Homo sapiens: one gene and its partners. The protein of the gene in region 2 interacts with the protein of the main gene of each other region in a pairwise test. Each region holds a gene or a part of one and is shown on either strand. Other genes may lie near its edges.

What was found.
Region 1: the proteins of RASSF3 (region 2) and STK3 interact in binary tests that used the Homo sapiens proteins (3 or more experiments, as listed by UniProt).
Region 3: the proteins of RASSF3 (region 2) and ZNF410 interact in binary tests that used the Homo sapiens proteins (3 or more experiments, as listed by UniProt).

Annotation. Positions count from the first base shown.
Region 1 is NC_000008.11:98,542,689-98,549,688, forward strand, and holds part of STK3 (serine/threonine-protein kinase 3), read right to left. Parts: intron 5,474-7,000; coding exon 5,281-5,473; intron 1-5,280. UniProt on the Homo sapiens protein: Stress-activated, pro-apoptotic kinase which, following caspase-cleavage, enters the nucleus and induces chromatin condensation followed by internucleosomal DNA fragmentation.
Region 2 is NC_000012.12:64,689,686-64,698,172, forward strand, and holds the end of RASSF3 (ras association domain-containing protein 3), read left to right. Parts: intron 1-1,784; coding exon 1,785-1,894; intron 1,895-5,077; coding exon 5,078-5,227; 3' UTR 5,228-7,879; downstream 7,880-8,487.
Region 3 is NC_000014.9:73,889,859-73,896,858, forward strand, and holds part of ZNF410 (zinc finger protein 410), read left to right. Parts: intron 1-2,168; 5' UTR 2,169-2,317; coding exon 2,318-2,350; intron 2,351-3,938; coding exon 3,939-4,074; intron 4,075-4,500; coding exon of another isoform or gene 4,501-4,551; intron 4,552-6,457; coding exon 6,458-6,676; intron 6,677-7,000. UniProt on the Homo sapiens protein: Transcription factor that binds to the sequence motif 5'-CATCCCATAATA-3', and is specifically required to silence expression of fetal hemoglobin in adult erythroid cells.

The DNA of each region.
Region 1 (7,000 bases), on a different chromosome or scaffold from region 2:
TTGTTGGAAGGATAAATTAATAGGGTGGACAGATGAATATTATCCTTTATTGATTATCAACTATATTTAAAACACTGCTAGGCATGTTTTGAATTTACCTAATACACACACCTGCACATATACACACAACAGAGAGACAAATATTTATCACTGAAACTCAGACAGAATTAAGCAACACAATTACTAAATGATTTGGCTTCACATCCCATGCTCTTCACTATACCACATCATTTGTTCAGAAAACATTTCATGAACTCTTACCAAGTGCTAGGTATTGTATTAGGTATCAAAAATACAGTGGGAAATAAACAAAAGCACACGCTCACAATAAAGCATGACAGTGCTGTAAGAGTGAAAGCTTGGGGTGAGATGGGAGCCTATTAGAGGGGCACTTATTCCTAACCTGGGGTTGATAGAGGAAGCAACCTCTTAACTGAGCCTGAGTGAATGAATATGATTTAGCAAAAGAAGCATAAATCCCACAGGAGGATTTAGGCATTGCAAGTGGCCAAAGGTAAAAAAGCTCTGTAAGAGCTGAGAAGCTGGAAGAAGGATGAAGAGGGAATAGAAAGGTAAGTAGGAACCAGAGCATATACTGCTTCTTAACTGGTGTTGAGCTTTAGCCTATAAGCAATTGGTAGTCACTGGGAGGGCATAAGCAGAAGAGAAATGTGCTGAAATCTGTATGGTGGGGAGGGAATGAAGATTGGAGGCAGAGGATCAGTTTAGAAGCCTCACAAGTGAGAAACTATGAGGACTTGCACTAAAGAAATGCAAGCAGAGATCATGAGAAGAGAATAGGGATATTTAGGGGGCAGAACTGATGAGATGTTACTTCCATGAAGGGTGAAGGAAGAAACGGAAATTAAGAATGACTCAATTTTTCAACCTTATTCCAAAGACCACATTTAAAACACCTATACAGCTTCTCTAGGTACTTGCATGATAACATTTCACTTTTTTTCTGTAAAGTAGGGAGCAACGTCATCTACTGAAACTGAGATGGGAGGCAGGAAGAAGAGATCTAGTGAAGATCTAAACTAGCCACTCTGTAGAATGAGGAATTGCTGAACAGAGAAACACAGGCCTCCAGGAAAGTTGAGGGCCCAAATGGGGGAGAAGGTCTTGATCTGGCAGCCCTCATCTGTGCAGATGGAAGATTATCTCCAGCAGCACTCAATAGCCAGGGTAAAGATGCAGAGAAGATGAACACTGAGACTGGACCATATCAAAGTTTTCCAGGAGAGGCAGAAAAGACAAGACATTAGGGCAGTGGAGTTTAGAATATAAGAGAGTGGCAGAAGCAATGAAATATAGCCTCTAAGAGGAGTTTAGAACATAAGAGAGTGGCAGAAGCAATGAAATAATGAAATATAGCCTCTAAGAGGAGTTTAGAACATACGAGAGTGGCAGAAGCAACGAAATAATGAAATATAGCCTCTAAGCTGGATATAGAAGTGAAGGGAGGGTGTGCTAATAAAAAGAAAGCAGACTAGGAACTAGGGTCAGGGAACTAGAGGGCTCTCATGATAGCATTTCCCAAAATGTGTTTCTCAGATGCTTATTACACAGGATGTTAATCACTGATACGTTCCTCATTAAAAGCTTTTCATGGTCAAATAAGTGAAGGAAAGTTTGGGTAATGTAATTTTTAAACTGTTTCCTTCCTGTACTATTTGTATTTAATAAGTTAATAATATATACTGTAGTTCTCTAATAATTTATCTCTAGGATAAATATGCATTTCCCAAATAATTCTGATTACTGTATATTATTTATCTATATTTATCAGAGAATTTCACTGAATGGGTATCTTAAGGAACACATTTTCAGAGGGTCTGCTCTGTGAAATGAGAAGCAGGGATGGTAGAACACTTGAAAAGAAAGTATCTTACCAAGGCAGGAGGTTTACCTGAAAGTTCTCTTAGCTTCCAGAGCTATGTATCTTTAATTCTACTATAACACACACACACACACACACACACACACACACACACACACACACACAGCTTGACTCTGACTCTACTGTAATTAGTATTCATTCATGAAACCAATATTCCAAGAGCATGTACTATTATGTGGCAGAGGAGATTTATACAGCATTCTTACCAGGACAAACTTCGTGACTTATCTGGAGAAACAACAGATACACACATGAAAAATAAAAACCTGGCTGGAAAATATGGCTCTTCCTCAGATACCCATAAGACATAGTTTCCCTCCAGGGCAACTAGTGCTACCAATCTAGCCACAGCTCTGTAAGATCAGAAAGTTCCTCCATAAAAACAGAGCTAACTGAGTAGATCTGAGCTGAACAAACTAAAAAGCCCCAGTCTTTCTTTGCTGAAGCTACTACTCTCCCAGAGTCACCCATGATGAAATAATCTCTCCTACCCCATCAGTTTGATGACATAGATTCTTGACCTGGTCCTAATCTACTCCAGGATAATAAATCCTAAATTGATTTTCTTGAATGACAACCAACCTGCTTTTACCCAGTGTCAAGCATTCAGAATTCCAACTGGCACAGACTAGTATGGATAAAACATAATCCATAAGGAAGAAGTAGAGATCCACATGTAAATAATGGCTAGTGCCAGACTGTGAAGGATCTTGGTGACACAGCTGAAGCCTGGACATTCCATGGGGAATGAGGAGGCCTTAGGGATATCTGAATAGGAAGACTGGGAGCGGGAGGGTAAAAGTAATGCCATCATTGCTAAAAACAGGTTTAGAAAGTTATTCTTGGGACATGCCCATAGGGTCCACGTCCATTTTTTAAAAGGCAGATCAAATTTTAAAATACTTTTTGTCATTTTTCTCCACTTCCCTTCAAAGGGTCTGTGGGTAATTTTCCTTTCTAGAGGTAAGGAAAATAGGCCCATAATTTCTAGCTTCATGGTTAAAGGTATAAAAGAGTAAGTGTAAACATAATTTAAACTGACAAGGATGTTAAATCAGGCAACTCACTTGAAACTCCAATGGAAAAAGAGATGAAATTCTAAATCTTCAGTACACATTGTAGAGATTTTAGAAAACCAAAAATAATATACTGCTATCATCTTATTAGGGAACAAAAATGCTAAAGACACATTAGCAAATGTGGCTTTGACTGATGTGACATAAGCTGAGACCTCATACCAACTAATTTAAGAAGTTTTAAAGATTTAGATCACGAGAAAAACAAAACTACAATAATTATATGGTTTCAGAAAAAGTAAGTCTTCCCTCAATAACTTCTTCACATACTTTACTACTGCTATACTACAATATGACAATCCCTAGGGGTTATACTAACATCACTTGATTAGAATTTTGGAAACACTGAAGTCTCACATTACAGAATGATGTCTAACTTGTAAAAACAAAAAACACAGAAAGTTGGCTCATGGGATTTAAAATTTGCTGAGGTCCATAAAACAACTGCAGCTATAAAAACCACTTATCTGTTCAACTTCAAAATTGGTTTTCACTAAAATCTCTGTGACAAAAAGTCATACCTATACAATCAGTTATAACAAAATTATAACATGTATTGATTTTTGTGGATGTCAAATCTAAAAGTCACTATACAAAATGTCAGAAATCTGTGGTATAAAGTATGATGTCGGAAACATCATCATTAGTCTCTCTTCCTTGAAATATAATACACTGCAATCTAAATGAATTAGATTCTATAAAGACTCATTTTTCTTAACTATTATATATATGCTGATGTTCAACTATATGACTGCATGAAAAGTTGTTCATATAGTTTCATAAGGAGCTCAGTAACTCCCTAAAGACACAAAAAAGCACTCAATGATCTAATTGATCTGTTAAGAATCATAAAATTTGAGTTAAAAATTATATCAGCTTATGGAAAATTGATATTACATGTTGATGAAAAATGTGTTAACTGTTTTACCACAGAGTCTTTGTGATCCACTTGTACCCCAACACTAGCTGGTTCTGGAGGCCATAAGACCATCCTCTGCAGTGGAGTGAGGCACGTTATGGATGCAGAAAACTTACTCTAGTCAGATGCCCAGCTAGGAATTTCAGGAAATCCAAGATGTAGGCTGCTTTCCAGGAAAAAGGCACAGAAGACCCACCAATGGCAGGAGATAGAAAATTCATACTCCACCCCCAGGATTATGGCAATATAGCAATCTATTACATTTTGTGCTTCATGATCCTCTCTATCCAAAGTACATATGCAACCATAGTGGGCTACACAGAACTAGGGAATGTGAAGAAAGCAGCAGTACTGAGCCACGTGACTTGAAGTTATGGGTCAGACCTCATGGCGGAGTAGCAAAAAGAAAAGGGTGGGCAAAAAGGAAATGGAAGTATCTGAGAGAAAATTCTGGTATCCATTTTGCAGTACCAGCAAATCACTTGAATATTTACAATTTTCTAGGTTCTACAATGCTAGAAGTCATGTAATTCTGCTGTTCTGCCATGGAGAGGCAATACTCTTCAGTGGAAAGCAGCCTAGTGCTTGCTTAGACTTTGACACTAACCACACAGGACTAGGGTAGGAGCATGACAGGAAGAAAAAGGTCAGTTGGTGCTAAGAGAAAATTCATTTTTGCCTATAACTGTGAAATCACAATGACCTACGATGTTAACTGCAGTATCTTAAAAAACTGTTTTTAAAAAAGAGAAGTGCTAGTCTGTGAAAGCATTCCTATTGTCATCACTTTGTAAGCAACAGAGGTCAGAGAGAATGTTTGATCATCATTTTAGCCACTGCAGCACCCCCAGCACTGTGCCTCACATATGATAAGCAGCAGTAAATATTCATGCAACTGAATCTTCTGTATGAGCATCCCTGTCTCTTAATCCTTCTTTCTAGTGCTTCTTATTTTCCCACCTTATTTCTTCCCATAGCTCGCACTGCTCTTTGTGGTTTAACTGATAATTTGGACAACATAAAATAATAGTCTGTTGAATTTACTGGAAGATAATTTTAGGTTCACTTTTTTAATTGGGAAAGTAAATGTTAGGAACACTATCTTTTTCTCTCTAAAATACTTTGCAAATTAAGCCGTGGGTTAGCAACCTTCAACAGAAAAAAGTTCCATAACTCTAAGTTGAAGATGTGTTGTTTTCTGCTATATTAAAATACAATTTTAAAAAGGTGACTTGTGCCATACTCTTTTTTACTGTTACATAAATCTAAGAAACAAAATTTTCCACAGTTGGCTATAAAAAGTAACACAGAACTAGCCTGGTTCCTATAAAAGTATCCTTTCGAATTAGAAAACTAATATTTAATGTAAAAAAGCCACATACTTTTCATAGTTCCATCTTCTTCTTCCTCATCCTCACTGTTTATCACCATGGTCCCCAAGTCGGATTCCAACATCGTGCTATTATGTTCAATCATGGTCTGGGCCCCTTCACTCATCGTGCTTGTGGCCCGCATGGTGCCCACACTCTCCACACTAGTCTTCACCATGGTGTGGGAATCCAGCTCATCTTCATCCTGCAAGCAAAATACTGCAATGAGGGAAGACTTTTCTATGACAGCTGGATTTCTTAATTCTTAACAAGAGAATGAATATATTATAGTTTTAATACTTATTAAAAATACTATTAGTACTGATTTTAATATAAATACATACATACAAATGTTATTTTAAGAGTGAAAATTATTCAAAATAACCTAAAGCTTTAGGTAATTACAGATCAAGCAACAGAAACTGATGAAGTAGAAGGCTGCTAGTTGCTTTTAAAATAAGGATTAAGATAGGTAAACTATCAGCAAATGCATAACAAAGAATATGGTGACAAAACAACTAAATATATATGAGAGCACCTTTAAGACAGAACACATTGACACTTTGTATTATAATGGGCATAATGATGTCTATAACCTTGTAAAACAGCCATTAGCTTTTTCTTTTAAATTATGGCAAAATATACAAATACATATATATAAAATTCACCATTTTAGCAATTTTTAAGTGTATAACTCTGTAGCACTAAGTATATTTACAATGTTGTGCAACCACCACCATTATATGTTTACAGAACTCTTCATTCCCCCTTTCCCCAGCCCTGGCAACCTCTATTGTACTTACAAGAGGTATCTAGAATAGGCAAATTCATGAGTACTACTATTCATACCATAGTACTAATTCATAATTACTATTATACTTATGAATTTGCCTATTCTAGATACCTCATGTAAGTGGAATCATACAATATATTTTGCTGAGCCTAATGCATTCAAGATTCATGCATATTGTGGTAGAAAAATTTCATTCCTTTTTAAGGCTGAATGATATTCCATTGTATGAATACACCACATTTTGTTTCCCTATTTATCTGTTGATGGCCATTTGGATTGTTGACACCTTTGGCTACTGTGAATAGTGCTAATGTGAACACTGACCTACAAGTATCTGTTTGAATCCCTATTTTCAGTTTGGTTGGGTATCTACCTAGAAGTACAATTGCTGGATCACATGGTAACTTCATATTTAATTTTTTAAGTGCCCAAACTGTTTTCCACAGTGGCTATACCATTTTACACTCCCACCAGCAATGCACAGGATTCCAACTTCTCCACATCCTTGGCAACACTTGTTATTTTCCATTTTTAAAAAATAATAGCCATCCTAATGAACATGAAGTGTTATCACATTGTAGTTTGATCTGCATCTCCCTAATGACTACTGATGTTGAGCAATCTTTTCGCACGCTTATTAGCCATTTGTATATCTTCTTTGGAGAAATATCCATTTACCCATTTTAAAATGGGTTGTTTGGTTTTTCTGTTGTTATTACAAATTCTGGATATTAATTCCTTACCAGAGATATAATTTGCAAATATTTTCTCCCATTCTGTGTGCTTTTTACTTCATTTATAGCGTCTTTTGATGTAAGTTTTTAATTTTGATGAAGTCTGATTTATCAATTTTTTGCTTTTGTTGACAAATCTCAGCTTTTAAATGTTTCACAGAAGAATCAAGTCAGTAATAAAAGTACAAATTAAAAGTGCTCTTTA
Region 2 (8,487 bases):
ATGTCACTGTATGTGTGTGTCTAGCATGAGACATATATAGCTGTGCTTGAAGCTACCGGAGCTTATATTCTGATTGCTTGGTTTGTAGCTGCTAATTCGCTAATTCTTTTTTTTTTTTTGAGACGGAGTCTCGTTCTGTCACCCAGGCTGGAGGTGCAGTGGCGCAATCTTGGCTCACTGCAAGCTCCACCTCCCGGGTTCACGCCATTCTCCTGCCTCAGCCTCCCGAGTAGCTGGGACTTACAGGCGCCCGCCACCACGTCTGGCTAATTTTTTTGTGTTTTTAGTAGAGACGGGATTTCACTGTGTTAGCTAGGATGGTCTCGATCTCCTGACCTTGTGATCCGCCCGCCTCAGCCTCCCAAAGTGCTGGGATTGCAGGTGTGAGCCACCGCGCCTGGCCTCGCTAATTCTTAATTAATCTGTAGAGAGATTTGCTTTTAGAACTCTTGTTTTTATGTTCTTTGGATGGTATATACATTTTTTTTTAAATTTGTTTTTTGTTTGTTTGTTTGAGACGGAGTCTTGCTCTGTTGCCCAGGCTGGTGTGCAGTGGCACAATCTCGGCTCACTGCAACCTCCGCCTCCTGGGTTCCAGTGATTCTCCTGCCTCAGCCTCCCAAGTAGCTACAATTACAAGTGCCCACCACCATGCCCAGCTAACTTTTGTATTTTTAGTAGAGACAGAGTTTCACCATGTTGGTGGCCAGGCTGGTCTCAAACTCCTGACCCCAGGCAATCTGCCTGTCTCGGCCTCCCAAAGTGCTGGGATTACAGGTATGAGCCACCACGCCTGGCCTTGGTTTTTGAGACAGCGTCTTACTCTGTCACCTAGGCTGGAGTACCATGGCATGATCATAGCTCATTGTAACCTTGAACTCCTGGGCTCAAGTGATGCTCTTGCCTCAGCCTCCTAAGTAGCTAGGACTATAGGCGGGCCCCATTATGCCTGGCTAGTTAGAAAAAAAAATTTTTTTTTTTTGGAGACCAGGGTCCTGCTATGTTGCCCTGGCTGGTCTCGAACTCCAGGCCTCAAGTGATCCTCCTGCCTCAGCCTTTAAGTGTTGGGATTACAGGTGCGAGCCACTATGCCTGGCCTATTTTTATTGTTTTTAAAGGAGTAGTGGACCCTTTTTTAGGTTTCTTATCTTGCCTTTTTTTTTTCATTTAAAAAAAATTTTATTTATTTTTTGAGACAGAGTTTCACTCTTGTTGCCCAGGCAGGAGCGCAATGGCACGATCTCGGCTCACTCCAACCTCCACCTCCCAGGTTTGAGTGATTCTCCTGCCTCGGCCTCCCAAGTAGCTGGGATTACAGGTGCCCGCCACCACGCCCGGCTGATTTTTTGTATTTTTAGTAGAGACAGGGTTTTGCCATGTTGGCCAGGCTGGTCTCAAACTGCTGGCCTCAGGTGACCCGCCCACCTCGGCCTCCCAAAGTATTGGGATTACAGGCATGAGCCACCATGCCTGGCTCTTACCTTGTTTTCTAAAAGGAAGAGCAGAGCTAACTATAAGCATATTTTGGGACTAATATCTATTAAAATTTATTCTTGAAAATAATTTCCTTCTTAATCAAGGCACAGTTTATATTTGAACAGAAACAGAATAGATTTTATTCCACTGTGGGCTACTGGTATTAAATAATAAGATGAGCCGACTGGCGACTTAGAGGCTGGGGTAACTTGGATGGTTACCTTGATCTGGAGGAGGGGATCACAATGGGGAAGTGGTCTCAGGAATGGCTGAATACTCTGTAACATGCTGCTTGTTTCTTTACCCAGTCTACGCCTGCAAGCTCTCAGACCGGGAACATCCACTCTACCTGCGTTTGGTAGCAGGGCCCAGAACAGACACACTTAGTTTTGTTCTTCGTGAACATGAAATTGGAGAGGTAAGTTATTGTTCACTATTGCTTTAAACTATACAGAACAGCTGGCCCTATTTTATTGCAGTAGCCTAGTGACTTGGCTATTGATGGGGGATGGGAAGAGAAGAGAGTTGGAGGGCAGGGGGATGGGAAGAGAAGAGAGTTGGAGGGCAGGGAGAGGGAGAGGGATTTTGAATTGTCAGAAATGAACCCAAAGTTAGCCTATGATGTCATTCTCTCACAACCTTATATTATTAGTCTGTCATTTTCAGAGGTGGGAGAAAATAAAGTTTTTTTACTTGATCTCCATCCAGAGAGTCATTTTCACCCCTTCCCACCTCCAAAATACTCCAGTCCAGCTGAACTTTGAAAGTTGACACTCACCATGTGTTTGCTACTAACAAAAGTCTCCAGGCTAATTCCCTTCTAAAGGGATATAAAAGGAAATTCGATCTCTTTACCATGGAAGGCATTTAGCTTTCTAGCATCTTTTTTTTCCCCCTTGCCCAGTCAACTGATTAAGAAATTATGTTTCCATGTGCATCATTTGCCATGTTGTCTCCAGGGAGGATTGTATTTAGCCAGTTCAGTAGAAGAAAAAAAGCACTTGAGCCTGCCCTCTAGATCAAGTGTCAGCTTTAAATGACACTTGAGCAAATCCCAAGCTCCTGTCCCAGTCTTCTGTCTGGAACAGGAAATGGTGTGAAATGTCCTACATGGTGCAATTGAGAATAGGGTTTCTAGGTTAAAAGTTAGGAAACGGCTCTGTTTCCTACTGTTTGTTAGATTAGTAGCATGACCTTGGATAAGTCTTCTAATCTTTTAGCCCTCAGTTTTAAAATCTGTTAAGTGGGACTAAACACTTTACAAGGTGGGCTTTGAGTCACAATTAGAAATGTATACATGTAAGTGAAGGGAGTTTTAGGAAGACAGTGGTTTTACATGTTTTTGAAGTTTCTTTTGATTCTGGTGTTTTGAAGCTTTTCAAGACATTCAGACTCATTTTGGGGAGAAGGCAGGGTGCAGAAATCTGACTTGGCTTTGCAGATGGTGACCATTCCCTCTGCCAGCTTAAGCCAGACACATTAGCATAGTCTACTCAGTGTTTTATTTTTCTTGTACTTAGTGTTTTAAGTAGCAACTAGAACTACATTGGGCAAGAATTTTATTAACTTGGTTATTTTATTGTATTTTAATTATAATTAGAGATAGGGTCTCACTACGTTGCCCAAGCTGGTCTCAAACTCCTGGGCTCAAGCAATCCTCCCACCTCAGCCTCCCAAAGTGCTGGGATTACAGGCATGAGCCACTGCACCTGGCCTTAACTTAGTTTTGAAATTGACTTGACATTGGGTTTTATTGTTCCAGACTGCTGTACTGGACCTCTGTATGGTGTTCTTATTTCTCAGTTATTTAAGGAAAACTGAACTGAGGAAGAAATTTCCATAGCTGTTAGGGGGTGGGAGGGATATTTATATGATGTCTTTATTTTGGAGACTTCAACATAGGTGAAAGATAATCTGTTAAAATTTTAAAAATTAACAGAATATTCTAACGTAGAAGTTTTGCTCTCCTACTCCATGTTGCTCTTTTTTTTTTTTTTTTTTTTAAATAACCAGCCTAAACTGTTCTCCAGGAATTCTTCTACCACTGAGCCCATTTGGTGGATTTACTTATTTTTCACTCTTTGTTTGTATTTGGTTATCTTGAATCTTTTCTCTACACCATCAGACAGCAGTTCTCCACCAGGATCCAGGGCCCCCTTTGGGAGAGGAGGATGTGTTTGGAAAAAACCTCGTAGATGATGCTAGATACCCTCCTTGACATTCACTGCTTCTATTTTTTAAAATCTGTTTTAATTTTTTTTTTTTTCTTTTTAAAGAGACTAGGTCTTGCACTGTCACCCAGGCTGGAGTACAGTGGCGCAATCATGGCTCACTGCAGCCTCAATCTCCCGGGCTCAAGCAATCCTCCTACCTCAGCCTCCCAAGTAACTGGGACTACAGGAATGTACTGCCACAGCCAGATAATTTTTAAATTTTTTGTAGCGACCTGGTGTCACTATTTTGCCCAGGCTGGTCTCGAACTTCTGGTCTTGAACTTCTGGGCTCAAATGATCCTCCTGCCTAAGCATTCCAAAGTGCTAGGATTATAGGCATGAGCCACAATGCCCAGCCTAAAAACTTATTTTGTGCCTGCTAAATAAGTACTAGGAGCTGTTAGGGAAACAAGGCTCAGAGCCTCAAGGCAAGAGATAAACTCCAAATAGCGAGAAGTACGGCAGCTGTGGTGTAGGTAAGGTGCAGGTGAGATAGATATTAAGCAAATAATTGTAATTTAAAAATCTTGGTTGTGATCAGGGGCTCTGTGAAGGCTTTTGATACACTTAGCCTTGGGTGGGAAGAGAGGAGAGGAAGTTGTGGAAAGCTGCTTAGAGAAAGTGGCATTTAAGCTGAGATGGGGAGGATGAGTAGTTCATAGCCAGGCAAAGTGGAGGAGGGGAGAATGCGTGCCACTTGGGCAGAGAGTGAAGCTCGGTGAGAGAGAGATGGGGCCGGAGAGTTTAGAGTCTTTCAGACAGCATCAGCAACTAAGGGAAGCCATTGGATGGTTCTAAGCAGGGGAGAGTCTTGGCCAGATGAGCATTTTACAAAGGATGTTCTGTTTGGGGAACAGATGGGGGAGCATAAGAGCCGAGTGAGGAGGCCAGGTAGGAAGCTGTTCCAGCGATGCAGGAATAGATGATAGTAGCTAGCACCAAGGGGCCGTACCGAGGGAGAAAAGGCTGAATGGAGAACTGTTTGGGGGTGATAAGACTGATTATGCGAGGTAAGAAAGTCAGTTACAATGAGGACTCGAGGTTAAGATGAAAGGACTGTCGAATTGTTTTTAATGCTGTTGGGGGTCAAATCAGGTAAGGAATGAAAGTGTCCAATAGACTTAGGGATATGGAGGTCTCTGGCTTTTAGGGAGATCGTCTTGAACAGTGGGAGGAGAGGGTAGGAAGGTGATTGGTGTGAGCTGAGGTGGGAGTGGGAGTGGAGGGAGCCCTTAGGCTGGCAACACCCCAGCTCTTGCAGACCACACCTTCTGCGGCATGGGGCTGGGAGGGGAGGGCAGCCGCACCTCTGGGAGCTCCTGGTCAGCATTCCTAAGTCTAACTGAGTATTAAACATCTGGCATTTTTCTTTCTGTGTTTCCTGACAGTGGGAAGCCTTCAGCCTTCCAGAACTACAGAATTTCTTGCGCATCTTGGACAAGGAAGAAGATGAACAGCTGCAGAACCTGAAGAGGCGCTACACAGCCTACAGGCAGAAGCTGGAAGAAGCCCTCCGTGAGGTGTGGAAGCCTGATTAAAGCGGGGCTCCCTGCCCGTGAGGCCCGGTGCAGGACCGATGTACAAAACAGCAGCAAGTGCCTCTCTTCTCAGAGGGCTGCTGTCTTGCCCCACTATGCTAGGGTCTTCGCCTTTCTATCTGTAGATTTTGTTCCCCAAACCTGGTCACACAGCATCCTGCACCTTAGCGTCCCATGTAAGGGACTCTGCAAGCTTGTTGTTCAGCACCGCAGTGTTACCTCTTGGCAAGCTGTGAACCTGTCGCCTCATCAGGAGCATTCGAGGGTGCTTGGAAGCATGAACTCTGGGGGTGTTTTTTTTTTTGGTTATTTTAATTATGTGATGATGCTGTTAAGCTTACAGATATGCAGTTGATTTTTTAAAAAGCTTAACTAGGAATCTTTCTGAATACTTGTCCTATTTTGAAACTACCTGTCTGGTTTTTTGTTTGGTTTTGTTTTCTTTTTTTAATGTCAGAGGAATCTATCCATGTGAATCGAAAGGCACAGGAATCTAGGAACTCTGAGGAATTTATTGTGAAGGATTTTGTTAGGGGGTTGACAGAGAAAGCAAAGTGTAAGTTTGGAAGAAGGCATGTGCGGTGGTGGCGAGTGCTGCGGGCTATGGAAGGTGACTTGGCTTTTCAGTTAGGGGTAGTGGAGAAAGGGGTAGTTGCTTGTAAACGAGTTAAAAGCATTCAGTGTGGAGGTGTTAAACCCATTTTAGGATCGCTTGGTTTCCTGGTGGGTAGAATATGGGAACAGAGCCAGAGGCAGGAGCTAAACCAAAAGGAGGGACCCATGAACTCTGCAGCTGACCAATCAGAGAATCAGGCAGGTGTAGCCTACTGACCTGGGCAGAGGTGGGCCTCACGCAGCTGGATCCGACCCTTTAATTCTGCCCTTTTGGAGTGGAAGGTCTGATTGGTGTAGCTGCTCTGCATAGGCAGGACAGTGACAGTTCACTAACTCTTGTTAAGTTACATAGTGTATAGCTTTCCCCCCACAGGTGGTTTTCAAAGTTGAGACGGAATTTGGGTAGGGGCAGCTGTTTTTCCCTTGATTGTTAGCTAGGATATTTGTCAAGTAAACTTTGGTGACAATCACTCTCTTCCCTTTTATTCCTCCTTTCCTTTTCCTTTCTTCCCTTTTTTCTTTCCTTCCCTGCTGTCTCCCACCCTACCTTGTTCTTTTCCTCCCTCCCTCCCTCCCTCCCTCCCTCCCTCCCTCCTTCCCTCCCTCTCTCTCCCTCTCCCTTTCTTTTCTACATTGAAATCTGTTCTTACATAATAGAGAACAGGGCTATTGAATAAAGACCCAATCCTACCAGATCTTTAGTTCTAAAGGGCAACTTGACTGTGAGTAGGAGGGCCCCCAAGAAAGGGAGGAAAGTCCACACCCAGCTAACCACACAACAGGGCTTCATTATGGAAATATTTTAACAAAAGTACATGTTATTACCAACCAAAGAGATGCATGTGCAATAGAAGCCTTCCTTAAAAACAGGCTAAATAACCTCATTTTATGCAGCAGTTTAATCTGAGAACAGAGGGAAAGGTGTGCAGTGGTTCCAGAGGGGCCTTATATTCTATTTTTAGTCTAGATATTTTTTGTTTATAAATTCCCAAGGAATTGTTAACACTTTGGTGACACCTAATGGATTCTTTTTGAAATTCCAAGGTGCTTCAGTTCTTTGCCCAAGTGAACTGTGCCTTTTATTGCATTTCTGTTCGTCTCTTGGTGGCTCTTCTGACTTTTTGGAGAATACCCATCTTGTTGGAGGCAGACTTAAGTTGTTATGCTGTGCCACACAATTTACTGAGACAATCATATCTTCCTAAGCATTTAAGGAAAGTTGAAAAAAATAGAATTAGCTATAAAATATGTATGGCACATCTTGTTTAATTTTGCATGTAACTTCTCTTTTGTACATTGATGAGGTTTTAGTGACATTGTCATCCAACACTTTACCTTTATTGTTCAGGGAATGCCTTCGTGATTTTTTGTACTGGTTTTATTATTCAGACTATGGCCTGGATTTGAGTATATTGTTATTACCACCTGGTTTTTTAATTATTCATCCCAGTAAACTTATATTTTGTGAAGCATTTGTTTCTCAGATTAAGACACTGTTAGAACCTAAAGTAGTAGCTGATGGGTATCTGTGAATTTTTTTTTTTTTTTTTTTTTTACTTGAAGTAGATTGTCTGAATAGGCATCCTCATCTATATTTACCCAAAACCTCGCTTACTGTCATGTGCACTACAAATTGCAATTTGGAAACCTACTGTATTGAAATTCTGTCAGTTTATGGTTCTTGAAGACTGATGTCCTTTCCCAAACACTGGTTACTGCAGCAGCATTTTTAATGTGTAAGTGAAGAAAAAAGGCCACTAAGGCCAAAGATTTTTTAAGAATCATTGTACAAATCATTATGTTAAACTATCTAAGCTTTGCTGTAATACTGTTTTCTCTTCAATATGTGATGGTACAGGAAGGATGTTAAATGAAGGGGTGGTATTGCAGGAGAGCATTTTAAATGGCAGAAGTAAAAAGTTATAATATTTATAATTTTGATGGGTTTAAGTTTATTTTTGTAGGGAAGATTTTTCTCCCCTAAAATAGTTTCTAGAATGGCAAAATTGTTTCCATTATTAAAAATTGAAGTTATTAGTTGTTTATGTGTGTTTATTTATGATAATATGCTAGATTTAAAAAGGTCACAGGAGTGCGCTGAGCTGCTTTTGCACATATACACAGGGACACATGCTGGAATGCAACAACTTTACTAGGTTCGCGTGGGTCATATTTGTTCTCCCAGATATCATTTTCTCTTTGCCTTATCCTCTGAGGAAAAATAACCCTAAGCTCACACAGCATATTCCAATGTATTTAAAACAATTGTTTTAATTTTTGAAATATACACATTTAAAAGTATATAAAGCATGCAAAAGAGGAGGGAGGCCGAGAGTGAAAAAATAAAAATAAAAAAGCATGCGAACAGTTTAAAGGATTATTATATAAAATGGACACCCCCTGACCATTACTAAAATAGAACCTTGTCAGTTCTTTAGAAATCTCTCCCTCCACCCCTGTTCTTGCCCTGAGGTCTCCTACCCCTGAAACATACCACTTCAACATAAAGTGAGTATTTGTATTTTTTTGGTCACCATGACTGCCTTACACAGATGGGATGGATAGTGTCTGGGGAACCACAGGGACGATGGAGTGCCACCCTCTGCGCACCTGCACCTCGGCTTTGTGCCATGGTTTCAGCTTCC
Region 3 (7,000 bases), on a different chromosome or scaffold from region 2:
CGATCTCGGCTCACTGCAATCTCCATCTCCTAGGTCCAAGCGATTCCCCTACCTCAGCCTCCTGAGTAGCTGGGTCTGCAGGCACATGCCACCACACCTAGCTAATTTTTTGTATTTTAGTTGAGACGGAGTTGCACCATGTTGGCCAGGATGGTCTCAATCTCCTGACCTTGTGTTCCGCCTGCCTCGGCCTCCCAAAATGCTGGGATTACAGGCGTGAGCCACTGCTCCCGGCCTAAATGGTTACTTTTTTACAATGAAAAATGAGGATTTCAGGTAGCTTAGAAAGAGAGAGGGAGAAACCAACAGGACAAAAAAACATTTATTCAGTTACTTTTTTTTTTTTTTGAGATGGAGTCTTGCTCTGTCGCCCAGGCTGGAGTACAGTGACGCAGTCTCAGCTCACTGCAACCTCCATCTCTCGGGTTCAAGCGATTCTCCTGCCACAGCCTCCCGAGTAGCTGGGATTACAGGCACCCGCCACATGCCCGGCTAATTTTTGTATTTTTAGTAGAGACGGGGTTTCGCCATATTGGCCAGGCTGGTCTTGAACTCCTGACCTCAGGTGACCCACCCGCCTCGGCCTCCCAAAGTGCTGGGTTTACAGGCGTGAGCCACCGTGCCCAGCCTAAGTGCCCTCTTTGTAAAGTCTGTCTTGTTCTACCTTTCCACACTACCTGGTATTAATTGGAAACTTTAAAGTACCCATTGATTGAAAATATACCCATCCTGGATACATTTTACACTGTATGATTATTTGTAATAGTGCTCCCAATTTTAGTAACAATTGTACAAAATAAAATGGACTCACATTCCAAAATCCTGAAAAGAAACTAAGCTATAAGAAAGTAAGAATTTAAGTTATAGGGAGTGGCTGGGCGCAGTGGCTCACACCTGTAATCTCAGCACTTTGGGAGGCCACGGCAGGCGGATCACCTGAAGTTGGGAGTTCGAGACCAGCCTGACCAACATGGAGAAACCGTCTCTACTAAAAATACAAAATTAGCCAGGTGTGGTGTCTCATGCCTGTAATCCCAGCTACTCCAGGAGTCTGAGGCAGAATTGCTTGAACCTGGGAGGCAGAGGTTGTGGTGAGCTGAGATCGTGCCATTGTGCTCCAGCCTGGGCAACAAGAGCAAAACTCCATCTCTAAATAAATAAATAAAAGAGAGAGAACAGCCGCATCAGGGTCCTGAGAGCACTACCTTTGGGAAACGCTCTTCAAATTTTAACTTTTTTTTTTTTAAATGTAATTTTAAAAATTATCAAAACAATATGGTTGCCTTTTAGAAATATTGGAAAATTGAGAAAAGAAAATTAAGTCACACCAGCCTACCACACGGTATAGCTACGGTCATAGCTGTATGAATCTCCTTTTACTTTTTCTGATGCTTATTATAACTAGTTTTAATAATAGCAAGTATATAATTTTGTATTTTATTTTTATAATTTAACATGTCAGTCACTTGTTGTTGCATTGTCTTCATAGCATTTGTTTGTTGGTTTGTTTTTTGAGATAGAGTCTTGCTCTGTCGCCCAGGCTGGAGTGCAGTGGTCTGACCTTGGCTCACTGCAACCTCCACCTCCTGGGTTCAAGGGATTCTCCTGCCTCAGTCTCCCGAGTAGCTGGGATTACAGGTGCCTGCGACCATGCTCAGCTAATTTTTGTATTTTTAGTAGAGAGGGGGTTTCACTATGTTGGCCAGGCTGGTCTCGAACTATTGACCTCAAGTGATCCACCTGCTTCAGCCTATCAAAGTGCTGGGATTACAGTTGTAAGCCACCACACCCAACCCTTCACAGCATATTTTGAAGTGACAGTGCCATATTTAATCAACCATTCCCTAATTGGGGGTGTGTGTGTGTGTATACATTGCTTCCAGTTGTTTATTACATAGGATAAGACGGACATCTTTGGACATAGCTCTATCCATATTTAAGATAGTTTTTTAGATTATTAGAGGTTGAAATACTGCATCAAAGCGTAGTATTTTTATGGGTTTTGATGCCTGTTGAGCTTGTTGTATTTTAAAAGAAGTGTTTCGGTTTGAATTCTTTATTTGCTTGCTTGTTGTGATTTTTTTTGTATATGTAAAGAAGTGTCTTTATGTACCTGTGTTTTCCCACTGCTCTTAATGCCCCCTCTCTCTTTTTTACCCCTATTCTAGGTTACATTGATTACCCACCTAGTACAACATCTTACGGGAAGAGCATAGTATTTCCTAGAGGAATATGAACATAACAGGAAGGTATCATTGGCTCTGAATTAAATTTGAACTTGTCCCCTGAATAGCTACAGGTTTTGGAAGCTGAATCAATGTTATCAGATGAGTTAGAATCCAAACCAGAGGTGAGCCCAGTCAGCTTGTTTCCTTTTCTTTTGGTGGGCTATATTTCAAAGTTTATCTTCAGTTTAGGGGGTCAGCAAACTTTTTCTTTAATGGGCCAGATAATAAATATTTTAGGTTTTTTAAGCTATATGGTTTTGATTGTTACTATTTTTTCAAAGATTTAAAAATTATATTTTTTGTGATTGTTTTTATATCTGTTTTTCAGTATATGTGAAATCATACATTTAGATAATGTAATAAAATCTTATAAATAAAAATATATGTTTATGTATAAATATATACATAAATATGAGATACATGTGATGTATAGGTGTATAAGTATATAAATATTTACTACTACAAATTCTTTTGTTTATTTTATATATATCTGTAAGTATTTTCTTTCTAAATGTGATTGGGGATTTAAACATTTTTTGTTGTTCACTTTTCTTACTTTAAATTTAGCACATCTGTGTTGCAGAGTGGTCACTGAATTTGGAATCAGATTACTTAAATTTGAGGATTGGCATTGCTCCTAACTAGTCTTGTGACCTTAGACAAGTCACTTAATGTCTTCAATTTTATTCCTCAGCTGTAAAATATGCCTTAAGTTTGGGTGCGGTGGCTCACGCCTGTAATCCCAGCACTTTGGGAGGCCGAGGCAGGTGGATCATGAGGTCAGGAGTTCAAGACCATCCTGCCTAACATGGTGAAACCCTGTCTCTACTAAAAATACAAAAAAAATTAGCTGGGCGTGGTGGCGGGCACCTGTAGTCCCAGCTACTTGGGAGGCTGAGGCAGGAGAATGGCGTGAACCCAGGAGGTGGAGCTTGCAGTGAGCCAAGATCATGCCACTGCACTCCAGCCTGGGCAACAGAGCAAGACTCTGTCTCAAAAAAAAATACATCTTAAATCTTACTGGGTTAATGCGATAATTAAATGAGCCAGTACACAGAAAAGTGTTTTGTAAAATGTAATCAATATGATGCAGTTGATTTTTTTTAAGCCATTATTTTAAAATGTAATTATTTTTATCATTTCTCTGTTTGACAGAAGGTGGCAGAGGTTAACTTAATTACAGTGAAGTGTCACTTAGCGATAGAGATACATTCTGAGAAATATGATGGTAGTTGATATCATTATTATGCGAACATGGTAGAGTATACTTACACAAACCTGTATGGTTTAGCCTGCTACACTCTAGGCTGTATGGTATACCTTATTGCCCCTAGGCTGCAAACCTATACAGCATGTTACTGTACTGAATACTGTAGGCAGTTGAAGCACAGTGGTAAACATTGTGTATCTAAACATATCTAAACGTGGAAAAAGTACAATAAAAATAGGATATTACAATCTCACAGGACCATCATCCTATATGTGGTCTGTTAACTGAAATGTCGTTTTGCAGCACATGACTTTATATAAATCAGCTGTTCTCTAGAACAGAGAACTTGATAAAATAACTTTAGATATTATGTTGTTTAGTTTTTGTTTGAATATGGATGAGACTAGTGAACAGTCTTAATATTATCTTTTGGTAAATTCAAAGGTTTAGATACATTTCTAACAACTCGTATTTCTCAGTGTTGTCTTTTCTCCCCCCAGCTCCTGGTACAGTTTGTTCAGAATACGTCCATCCCATTGGGACAGGGGCTTGTAGAATCAGAAGCTAAAGATATTACTTGCTTGTCCCTCCTTCCCGTGACTGAAGCCTCAGAATGCAGTCGGCTAATGTTACCAGGTAAAAATTAAGATCACTAGAAATAGGATAAAGAAGTCTTAAGAGCTTAGCCTACTCTATGTTACTGGTGGAATGAATATATCGTTTAATAACTGACTGGTGGAAACTGTAAAAATTAGGAGTCATGGAGAAAAAGCAACCATGAAATCATTAGTGCATTGGTAGTTTAAGCCATAGGAATGGATATGATCACCCAGAGAGTGTGAGAGTGGGGAAAAAAGGTCAGTGCAAAACTATGGAACTCTTTATTTAAGGTACAGGGTAGGGCAGGAGAACTTGTAAAGGAGGGAAGAAACAAAGACTAAAATAGTTGGATGAACATCAGCAGAGTGGAGGCATGAAACCCAGGAGAAATCATTGTATCAAATGCTACTGACAGGCCCAGTGAAATAGGGACTAAAAGGACTCCATTATTGACTTTGGCAGAACCTGTTCCATGGAGAGAAGAGGATGGAAAGTCAGGCTGCAGTGACTTGAGTATACATACTTGCTTTTTTTTTTTTTTTTGAGATGGAGTGTCACTCTGTCGCCCAGGCTGGAGTGTAGTGACGCAATCTTGGCTCACTGCAACCTCCGCCTCCCCTCCCAGGTTCAAGCTATTCTCCTGCCTCAGCCTCCTAAGTAGCTGGGATTACAGGTGCGTGCCACTATGCCTGGCTAATTTTTGCATTTTTAGTAGAAACGGGGTTTCACCATGTTGGCCAGGCTGGTCTTGAACTCCTGACCTCCAGTGATCAGTCCGCCTTGGCCTCCCAAAGTGCTGAGATTACAGGCGTGAGCCACTGCGCCAGGCCTATCAATACATACTTTCTAAAGTCTCTCCTGGTACGAGAAGGAAAAAGAGAAGGCGGTAAGATAGAGGGAAATTTTTTGTTTGTGTTAAGATCTGAGATATTTGAGGGTTGCTTTATGCTAAGGGGAAAGAACCAGTTAGAAAAGTTGAAGACAGGCCAGGTGTGGTGGCTCGTGCCTGTAATCCCAGCACATTGGGAGGCTGAGGCAGGAGGATAGCTTGAGCCCAGGAGATTGAGACCAGCCTGGGCAACATGGCGAGACCTCGTCTCTACAAAAAATTAAAAATTAGCTGGGCATGGTGGTGTGCAGCTGTAGTCCCAGCTGAGGTGGGAAGATCACTTGAGCCCAGGAGTTTGAGGCTGCAGTAAGCTGTGATCACACCACTGTACTCCATCCTGGGTGGATAGAGCAACACCCTGTCTAAAAGAAATAGTAATAAATTTAAAAAATATATGTATAAACAAACAATAATTAAGGAAATGAAAACAACAGCGTTCATCTTCCCTTAGAATGACTGTTATCTTAAAGATGGAAGATAACAAGTGTTGGTAAGGATATGGAGAAAAGGGAACCTTTGTACACTGTTGGTGGGAATGTAAGTTAGTACAGCCATTATGGAAACCGTATGGAAGTTCCTCAGAAAACTAAAAATGGAGCCACTATATGACCCAGCAATCTCACTTGTAGGTATATATCCAAAGGAATTGAAATCAGTAAGTCAAAGATGTCTATACTTACATGTTAATTGCAGCATTATTCACAATAACCAAGATATGGAATCAGCTTTAGTGTTCATCAACTAATGAATGCATTTAAAAAAAAATGCATTCACCTTCTTTTCCACATTTCTTTTAGTTTTAATTTTGATTTAAAGTATTTTAGACATACAAGTATAGATAAAAGTAAATGAAAATCCAAATACTTGGCCTCCCAGCTCATAAAACACAATATTACAGGCCGGGCGTGGTGGCTCATGCCTATAATCCCAGCACTTTGGGAGGCCGAGGTGGGTGGATCACTTAAGGTCAGGAGTTTGAGACCAGCCTGGCTGGTGAAACCCTCTCTACTAAAAATGCAAAAGTTAACCAGGTGTGGTGGCACAGAAAAAATAACCGCAGCCTGAGATACAACCATAGGTAAAAAGGTAATGGCAAAAACTGCAATAGCTTTTGCACCAACCTAATACAAAAGTTAAGGAGAGGGAGCTCTCTCCAGGAAAAATAAAATGTAGATCCTATTCTTGAGTTAGTATTCATTGTATAGCTATATTTTTCAAGGAGAAAGTACTGATTTCTGGCCTCAAAAAGGACTAAATTCTGTGATGTCCAAATGTTGAATGGTTGGTTATTCACCAACCATTACTGCCAAGTGACAGAGAATTCTGTTCCTCACGTTTTGGCTGACTGCCTTTGGAACATAAAGCCATCTCTCTGTTCTTCTGTGAGACAAAGTTTTTATTTGTGTAATGAGAATGCTGTCTGTTGCTATAAGGATGTTAGCTTCCAAGAGATGTTGGGTGCTGTGTATCAAAATGGTGGGCTCCTAGAGATAGGTGCTACATAAAGCTGTGGTATTTTCCCTTTACTAGATGATACTACAAATCATTCTAACTCCTCCAAGGAGGTCCCTTCCTCAGCTGTTTTGAGAAGCCTTCGGGTGAATGTGGGTCCAGACGGAGAGGAGACGAGAGCTCAGACTGTACAGAAATCCCCGGAGTTTTTGTCCACTTCAGAGTCTTCTAGCTTGTTGCAAGATCTACAGCCAAGTGATAGCACTTCTTTTATTCTTCTTAACCTAACAAGAGCAGGTATTCTTTCCTTTTTTTTGGGCTCTGCTTATGCCTAAGAAAAAAATTAGGGGTGGGGCATATTTAACTTAGTCATACTTAAAATAGAAAGAACCTTTATTATTTTATTATTTTGGAGAATTGGTGTGTCTGGTGACCATTTGAATATGTAGAGGGAGAGGGAGGACTCTAGTATGACTCATATCTTGTTTGGGAAATTATGTAGTGCCATTTACTGAGATCGCACAGGAAGAGCAAGGCTTGGGGGAGGATGATTAGTTCCAATTTGCACCTATTTATGTTGAGATTTTGGAGGTATATTCAGGAGGACATGTCCTTTAGAGA